Linked DNA regions of Homo sapiens. The protein of the gene in region 1 interacts with the protein of each later gene in a pairwise test. Each region holds a gene or a part of one and is shown on either strand. Other genes may lie near its edges.

Region 1 (3,912 bases):
GAAGGGTAACATAATTACATAGGGTTAGAAGTCTATCTGAAAGCTTTTCTGGGAGTGAGAAAAAAGGTGAACGAACACAAAAACATTGTTGAAACACTAAAAGCTTTCCTGATTGAACACTGTTACTCTCTGGTGGTTCCTTACCACATTCCATGCTTCAGAAACTTCCTTCCTACTTTGTATGTATTAATATAATAGCTGTTAGGTCATACACGCTGAGAAATATTGGGAAAATTTATAAAACACATTTACATCATCAGAAATAATTCTTCTCACACTTTTTTTTTTTTTTTTTTTACCAGTCTTGGTCCACTTTCAAATCCCTTCCCAAGTATTTTCTACTGCTTTCCGCTTTATATTCAAATGACAACTGCAGTCCTGGGTTTCAGGACTGAACTTCAATCCTGGACAGGCTCTCTAATACAGAAACTCTTTTGGCCGTTATGGCTGCATTCTTTATTATATCTCTTATTCCGATTTCCACAGTCTCTTTCATTGAAAATTTATCCCTAACCCCCTCTCTAAAAGATTTTGATCAAATTTGTGTAGTTGGGGGGTTGGGAGGATAGGGGCGGGAAGGAACTCAGTTGTCCAAATACAATTAATATCCTGTGCTGTTTCATTTAGATTGCTAATTTAAATAAAAAGCATGAAAACTCTGCAAGATAATAAATCTTCGTAAAATAATCTTGTTTACTAAGTGCACAAAGCCACAAGCAAGTGAAGCTCTATCTTTCAGCATGTCTGGACTAGTGACTTTTCATCATGGACTCAGAATACTGAGAAAGGAGAAGCAGGAAATCTGTGAGGCCCAGGGACAGTCACACTGGCCCACACTAACAAATTACTAACCGATGTCTCACCTTCCCCCGCCCCATTCCCAAAGATAAGGGTGTCAGGGCACCTGCATCTGAAGAAGAAAGACATCAGAACCTTTTCCGTGCAAGTTTTAAGAAAACAAAGCTTTACCACACGTAAAATGGTTACAACATAAAACCACGCAGCACGTTAGTGGGGTCTCACTCCTCTTCACCCAGAGGGAGGCTGCCCACCACCTTATCCCCTATTGTGATGCGCCTTCCTCAGGATGTCGCTGCGTTCGTCTGAGATGACAGGAAAGGGGCGGGGCACGGGGTTCCTCTGCCCTGGAAAGGGATGAGGGTATCGCCTTCATCCCCGGAGAAAGGCCCCCGGACTCCCAACCCAAAAGCAGCAGCCGCAAAACTCAAGTCTTATCCCGGCCTCTCCTAATTGGGTGCTCGTGGCCGGAGCCCAAAACGCCACCCACGGTACCCGAGCAGGGTCCGGCCGCCCAGACCACCGCCGCAGCAGCCTGGCTCTCACGCCCAGATTCGCCCTCCGCCCCTTTCCTCTTTCGCCCCGGCCAAGCCCAGCCTCCCGCGCCGCCCCCGCCGAGTTCCCCAGCTGAGTCCACTCACTCTCGAACCTGTAGTCCCCCTTCAGTGCCCACACAAGATTGGGGCAAAGGCCGGGGCCAGTGACACCTCCACTTCCTCCTCAGCCAGATCCCTCCGGAGGTGGCTGTGGAGGAAGCCACTGAGGCGGCTGCGCGTAGCGGAGCCGCCCCGGCAGGTTGCAGGCCGGCTCCTCAGCCTCTTACCGCGAGAGCTCACAATGCGAAGAGGCGAGGCCAGCAGCGTTCTCGCGAGAACGGTGCTCTCCGCCCAGGGGTGGGCGGGGCACCGAAGGAGAAGGCAGTTGAGGGCGCGGCGGCCACGGGTGGGATCTCAGGCGCGTGGAGAGGAAGGCGCCGCGCGACCTCTCCTCACAGACATCAGCTCGGGTCAACCGCGGGCCTCGAGCCCGAGTGGCTGAGGGCTGTTACCTTCAAACCTTTGAATCCCACGTTTTCCCCTTGACTTCCTGTCACCGTTAGAGAAAAGTGGACAGCGTCTCGGTCACAGAGTTGGAGAAATAGTGCAGGGACTCTTCAGGGAGAGCGTTTTCCTCATCAAAGCAAACTGCAAAATCGCTTCTGCCGGCGTGGACCTGATGAGAGTCGGTCGTCGTGAGGGACACCCTCTGTTCCCTAACGTCCCCCGCTGCTTATTTTTAAACGCTCGGTTGGCGGGAACCCCTGTGCCAGCTGAAACTCCTTCAGTTTGGCCGCCTAGGAAACACCGAGAGTCACCTACATGGGCTGGCTGGGCAATAAAAACGGGAAAAAATGTAAAAGACACAGTCTCCGCCTTCGAAGCTTACACCCCCGGGGCAAGACCTACAGGAAAATAGATAATCCCATTATTCTCTGATAAAAGCCGAGCTGCTTGCCATGAGCTCTGGGAGCAGACGGGGAGGCCTTGTTGAGAAAGCCTTCACCTGGGAGTGACAATTGCGCTGAATCTTAAGCATAAGTAAGTTCTCCAGTTTAGGGAAGAGAGGGAAGGGCATTGCAAGGAGAGGAAGCAAAGAGGAAGAGGACCTGGTTTGAGTAATTGGGTATGAAAACAGATATTGCAGCAAGAACTTTGTTGAAAAACCTTTAACCACTGTTTAGTTCGGATGAGAACATTCCCAGGCTCCTACGTGTGATACGCAAAGTATTTTCCAAATCAGTGTTTATGCTAAGAAGATGAGCAGTTGAGCTGGACAATTATAAGATAACTTCATCTTTCTCCTGTAAGGACACTTAAATATCAGAAACCTAAGAGAAACGGGTTATTGTCGTAATTCACTAAGTTATTATAGCCAACATTTTGCTAAATTGGAAATTGCCAATAATTTCAAGTTGTCTACATAAGAGCAATCTAATAGGAATTTTGTGATACAGTTTCTCAGAGAAACTCTGAGAAAATTCTCAGGCAAAAAACAAAAACGTCATCAGTCCTGATTTATTATCAAAATTTTCTCCTATAAGCTCTGCTCAGAAGAAGTCATTCTGTAGTCCAAGTTAGGGCTAATGAGGAGCCATACTCTTACATCAAAATAGAAGCTGTCCTTTTCTAAAGAAAGACTCTGGTATTTTGCTGTAGTTTCCACTCACCTTCCTTTGGACACATTATTTTCATATTACATATAAAAATATGTATACTATATGAAAAATACTATGTATACTATAGTTTTATTTGGCTTACCATACTCTCCCTACGAATAAGCCCAACACTTAGGAGGAAAACAAAAAAGTTATTCTAACCCTGCTGATACGGTTTGGATCTATGTCCCCACCTGACCTCTCATGTGGAATTGTAATCCCCAGTGTTGGAGGTCGTTGGATCATGGGGGCAGATTTCCCTGTTTTTGCCATTCTGGTGATAGTGAGTTCTGGTGAAATCTGTTCTTTAAAAGTGTGTGGCGCCCCCCCACCCCCGCCCCACTCCTCCCACCATATAAGACGTGCCTGCTGTACCTTGGCTTTCTGCCATGATTGTAAGCTTCCTGAGGCCTCCCCAGAAGCCCAGCAGAAGCCGTCGGACTTCCTGTACAGCCTGCGGAGCCGTGAGCCAGTTAAACCTCTTTGTTTTATAGCAGTGCAAGAATGGACTAATGCACCTGCCATAGGCCAATTGGGTGTTCTGTTAAGCATAATTTCACATCAAGTTCTTGGAATTTTCCAGGAAGCATTAGAAGAATCATATGAATGAAAGACTTCAGGCAAAATATGGAAACTTTGTTCCATGCTGGAATCTGTTCAAACCATCATATCCTACTTGGATGGGTCCTGGAGCTCATTTCATTCTGCTGTTCTTCAAAAACAAAAGAGAATGGGAGTTGGGAGAAAATAGAAAATCGAATAAAGTTTCTACTGTTCTTTGCTTTAAAAGAAAATTAATCGGCCGGGTTCGGAGGCTCGCGCCTGTAATCCCAGCATTTTGAAAGGTCGAGGCGGGCAGATCACGGGGTCAGGAGATCCAGACCATCCTGGCTAACATGGTGAAACCCCGTCTCTACTAA
Region 2 (3,912 bases), on another chromosome or scaffold:
TCCAGACCACCCAAATTTGGTTGGATTCTTCATTTCTCCACTGTAGTTGGGGTCCATTGATTGTGCAGGGGAACGTGCAGGAGGTTTTTCTAGGCACTGCGTTCAGTGCTGCTTCACTCTACCAGAGATTATGGCCAAATTGCACGGAATTTGGTTTCTTGCCCTCTGAAGCCTGAGGGCCCCCCCTTGCCTGGCTGGTTGACAGACCCGGGGTGCTCACTGCTGAGACTTCAGAGATCGCAGCTGCTGTGAGAATACGGTGAAGGTACTATGTTCTGGAAGATGTTGTCATACACTTTTCCCCAGTTATTTTCAAACTTGACATGAGCCTATGTTGACTCACTGGGTGGGGTCCCTTCTTACGCAGCACACGTGGCAAGTGCCTGAATCGGGGCTGGAGGCACTTCAGAGCCTCTGAGGGGCCACCACTTCTGGCCCAAAATTGCAGGGTTGTAGATGAGGCTGCCTGTGGAGAACTGGTGTGAGGAGGAAGCTGTTTCCAACAAAGAGCACTTTCATCTGTTGAGATGGCTGTGGTGAGCAACTGAACGAGCCTACGTGTGTACCTGAATTTTCCCCATAACTCATTTCTTCCATATGAAGAAACACCAAACTATGTACAGAGAACTTTTTACAAAAGGCAGACCTTTTTTAAGCTGTGTAACCCACATAGCCTAACCGTCTGGCAGAATGACTACGAATAGGGGTCATTGTGCTGGTAAAAGCCTCTATTACGACTGTTAAGTTGGATGTTGGCAAAATTAAATTGTTACAGTATTTAGAGCTGCTGTAGCTGTTCCTTCACAACATGAAATAGGATAAATGACTAGTACGTCTTTCAGGTGGGTGGCAGTCAGAACATGCGTAATATTCTCTACCTGGTCTGTAGCTGTAACTGTGATGTACAGACAAAGCAAAAATTAAAAGAACTCATGAAAACAAATAATACAATGGTATTAGGATATACACTTTTGTGTTTTTAATCTTATAGAAGGTTATTTGCTGGCTATTGTTGGCCTCTAGTTCAGCCTGTTATTTAAATTCTTTTTTTTTCTTGAGACGGAGTCTCACTCTGTCGCCCAGGCTAGAGTGCAGTGGCCTGATCTCGGCTAACTGCAACCTCCGCCTCCTGGGTTTAAGCAATTCTCTGCCTCAGCCTCCGAGTAGCTGGGATTACGAGCGCCCACAACCACATCTGGCTAATTTTTTGTATTTTTGGTAGAGACGGAGATTCACCATCTTGGCCAGGCTGATGTTGAACTCCTGACCTCGTGATCCACCCACCTTGGCCTCCCAAAGTGTTGGGATTACAGACATGAGCCACCGCGCCCGGCCTAAATTCTAATATATGAATTATTTGTATTGAATTCATGTTCGGGGCCACGTTGTTATATGTATTGATATACAGCCTTGAATGTGAATAATTACTATATATTTTACAACTTTTTTCTGGCTTTATTACAAAAACTTTCTTTTTTTTTTTTTGAGACAGACTCTCGCCCTATCACCAGGCTGGAGTGCAGTGGCGAGATCTCAGCTCACTGCAACCTCTGCCTCCCGGGTTCACGCCATTCTCCTGCCGCAGCCTCCCGAGTAGCTTGGATTACCGGCGCCCACCACCGCGCCAGGCTAATTTTTGTATTTTCAGTGGAGACCGGGCCTCACCATGTTGGCCAGCGTGGTCTCGATCTCCTGACCGCCTGATCCTCCCGCCTCGGCCTCCCAAAGTGCTGGGATTACAGGCGTGAGCCACCAGGCCCCGCCCTTATTATATAAATTTTCTATTGGGTCAATGATTTAATCATATAATTTAATGAATCTGTTCTTTTTTTCCCCCCAAATATTTGTGCTTTAGGTGTAGTTACCAGATGATGAATTTTCCTCCTATGCTCCGTAGTCTTGTAATAAAAAGCATGTACAGTGTAGACGTTTGCTGGCATGGCTCTTCCTTTGACCAGTTCATGAACTGGAGTCAGGGTGGGGGTGAAGGCTAGGGTCGAGGTCTGGGTCAGGCGCTCGTGCACCGCTCGTGGGAGGTCGAGGCTGATGTCCGCTGCTCCCCATCAGCGTTAGTGCCCAGATCACCCCGTGCTCCGCTCCCGCCGGAAGCGGGCCCAGCCTCCTGCTTTTCGGGACCGGAACTTCCGCCTACCGCGTGACGCCGGGGCGGGCGCTCTACCAGGGCGGACCTGTGGGCGGGACAGAACTCAGAGGACGCTATTAAAAGCCGGACGCTTCCGGTGGAAGGGAGCTGTTGCGGGGCTTGCTGGGATCATGGCGGAGAATCACTGCGAGCTCCTGTCGCCGGCCCGGGGCGGCATCGGGGCGGGGCTGGGGGGCGGCCTGTGCCGCCGCTGCAGCGCTGGGCTCGGCGCCCTGGCCCAGCGCCCTGGCAGCGTGTCCAAGTGGGTCCGACTCAACGTCGGCGGCACCTACTTCCTCACCACTCGGCAGACCCTGTGCCGGGACCCGAAATCCTTCCTGTACCGCTTATGCCAGGCCGATCCCGACCTGGACTCAGACAAGGTGAGGGCCTCACGGGCCAGCCCGGAGGGTCCTGGCCTTCCCGGCCTGCGGCTCCTGCACACGCCCTGCTTCGTGCGGAGGAGACTTCAGCGGGAGCGGGCGACTCTCCTCGGGCTTCGAGCCCCGCGCTCCCTTGTCGCCAGCTCCTCCCCAGCTTGCCCCGATCCCCTACCCTGGGAGGGGAGGGTGAGGATGGCGCCCTGGCGTCCACTGCCTTTGAGGATCCTGAGTCGATTCACCTTGGGGGTGTCTCTTCCTCGCCCTCTTTGCTCTTTGGTGGAGGAGGCTTCCTAGACCCCGGACTTTGCTGTGATTCTACTTTCTTTTTCTCACTAGGTTCTTTTGCCCAGGGTGTGTGAACGCCTTCTCTTCTCTGTCCCAGGGTACTTGCTGGCTCTGGAAACAGAACCCTTGGCGTTGTTTCACATTCTGGACGTTTGAATTAACGCTGACGTGGGGGTTGATATGGGCGGCCCTTTTTTTCCCTGGTGACTTGCATTTAGAGAGTTGGCGCTCCATCCTTTCCATCCACAGCACGCAGCACCCACTCAGCACCTCTTAGAAGATGCGTCCGTAGTATATAGTATGATTTTTCGAAGGGGATTTTGCTCATATTAAGGGTTGCTTTAGGGATGTCCAGGAAGGGTCAGGTAAGGAATCTTTCAATCTGCTTTCTAATTGGCTTAGTTTTCCCACTGTCTTCGCAAAAGGACAGGAATTTCCAGGTTAGTTTGCAGCTTGTCTTTCATCAAGCGAAATGCTCATGCTGTTGGGTAGATGGTAATAGAAACCTTTTGCTACCTTTATTTATCAAGAGTTGTGGAGCCGAGGAACCGTGTCTTGGGAGTTGTGCAGGATTGAAACTCACAAAAAAGCCTGTTTGAAGAAGTTGTTACCTATATTTATTCAAGGCAGTTCACAAGCCTTATACTAACTTTGCGGGGTCTTTCAGTTGAGCTTACATGACTGCGCTTGGCTTTGTGCCTTGGCAGCCAACATTTGCCATGCAGGAGGCTTCCCAGAAAGGTTCGGATCCCTCTTCAAGTTTGAGAAGCCTGACTGAGACCATTCTCAGCATGGCATGACCGTGATCAGGAAGTGAGAATCTGGAGTTACTGCTAAGGCAGCCTTGTGGGTGGAAATGAGGGTTTGAGATGCCAACCCTCCTGTGCCTCCCCACAACTTCCAACTGTTTCCATTGCTCATTTGACCAAGCCCTCTACTCAGAGAATTGACCTCCCAGGAAATGACAGTCATCCCCAGGATAGAAATAGGCGTTTGTTAGCTGTGATTTTCCTTTTATAAGTGTGGGTGTATGTTTTACTGTTTGGTTTTTCTTTTTAAATAACAGGGCTTAGTGGTCACTCCCTTGCCTTTCTACTCAAG

The links.
Region 2: the proteins of BTBD10 (region 1) and KCTD5 come close enough for resonance energy transfer, tested with the Homo sapiens proteins (one study listed by BioGRID).

The regions. Positions count from the first base shown.
Region 1 is NC_000011.10:13,461,653-13,465,564, forward strand, and holds the start of BTBD10 (BTB/POZ domain-containing protein 10), read right to left. Parts: upstream 1,571-3,912; 5' UTR 1,440-1,570; intron 1,338-1,439; exon of another isoform or gene 970-1,337; intron 1-969. UniProt on the Homo sapiens protein: Plays a major role as an activator of AKT family members by inhibiting PPP2CA-mediated dephosphorylation, thereby keeping AKTs activated. Plays a role in preventing motor neuronal death and accelerating the growth of pancreatic beta cells.
Region 2 is NC_000016.10:2,680,275-2,684,186, forward strand, and holds the start of KCTD5 (BTB/POZ domain-containing protein KCTD5), read left to right. Parts: upstream 1-2,248; 5' UTR 2,249-2,274; coding exon 2,275-2,526; intron 2,527-3,912. UniProt on the Homo sapiens protein: Its interaction with CUL3 suggests that it may act as a substrate adapter in some E3 ligase complex. Does not affect the function of Kv channel Kv2.1/KCNB1, Kv1.2/KCNA2, Kv4.2/KCND2 and Kv3.4/KCNC4.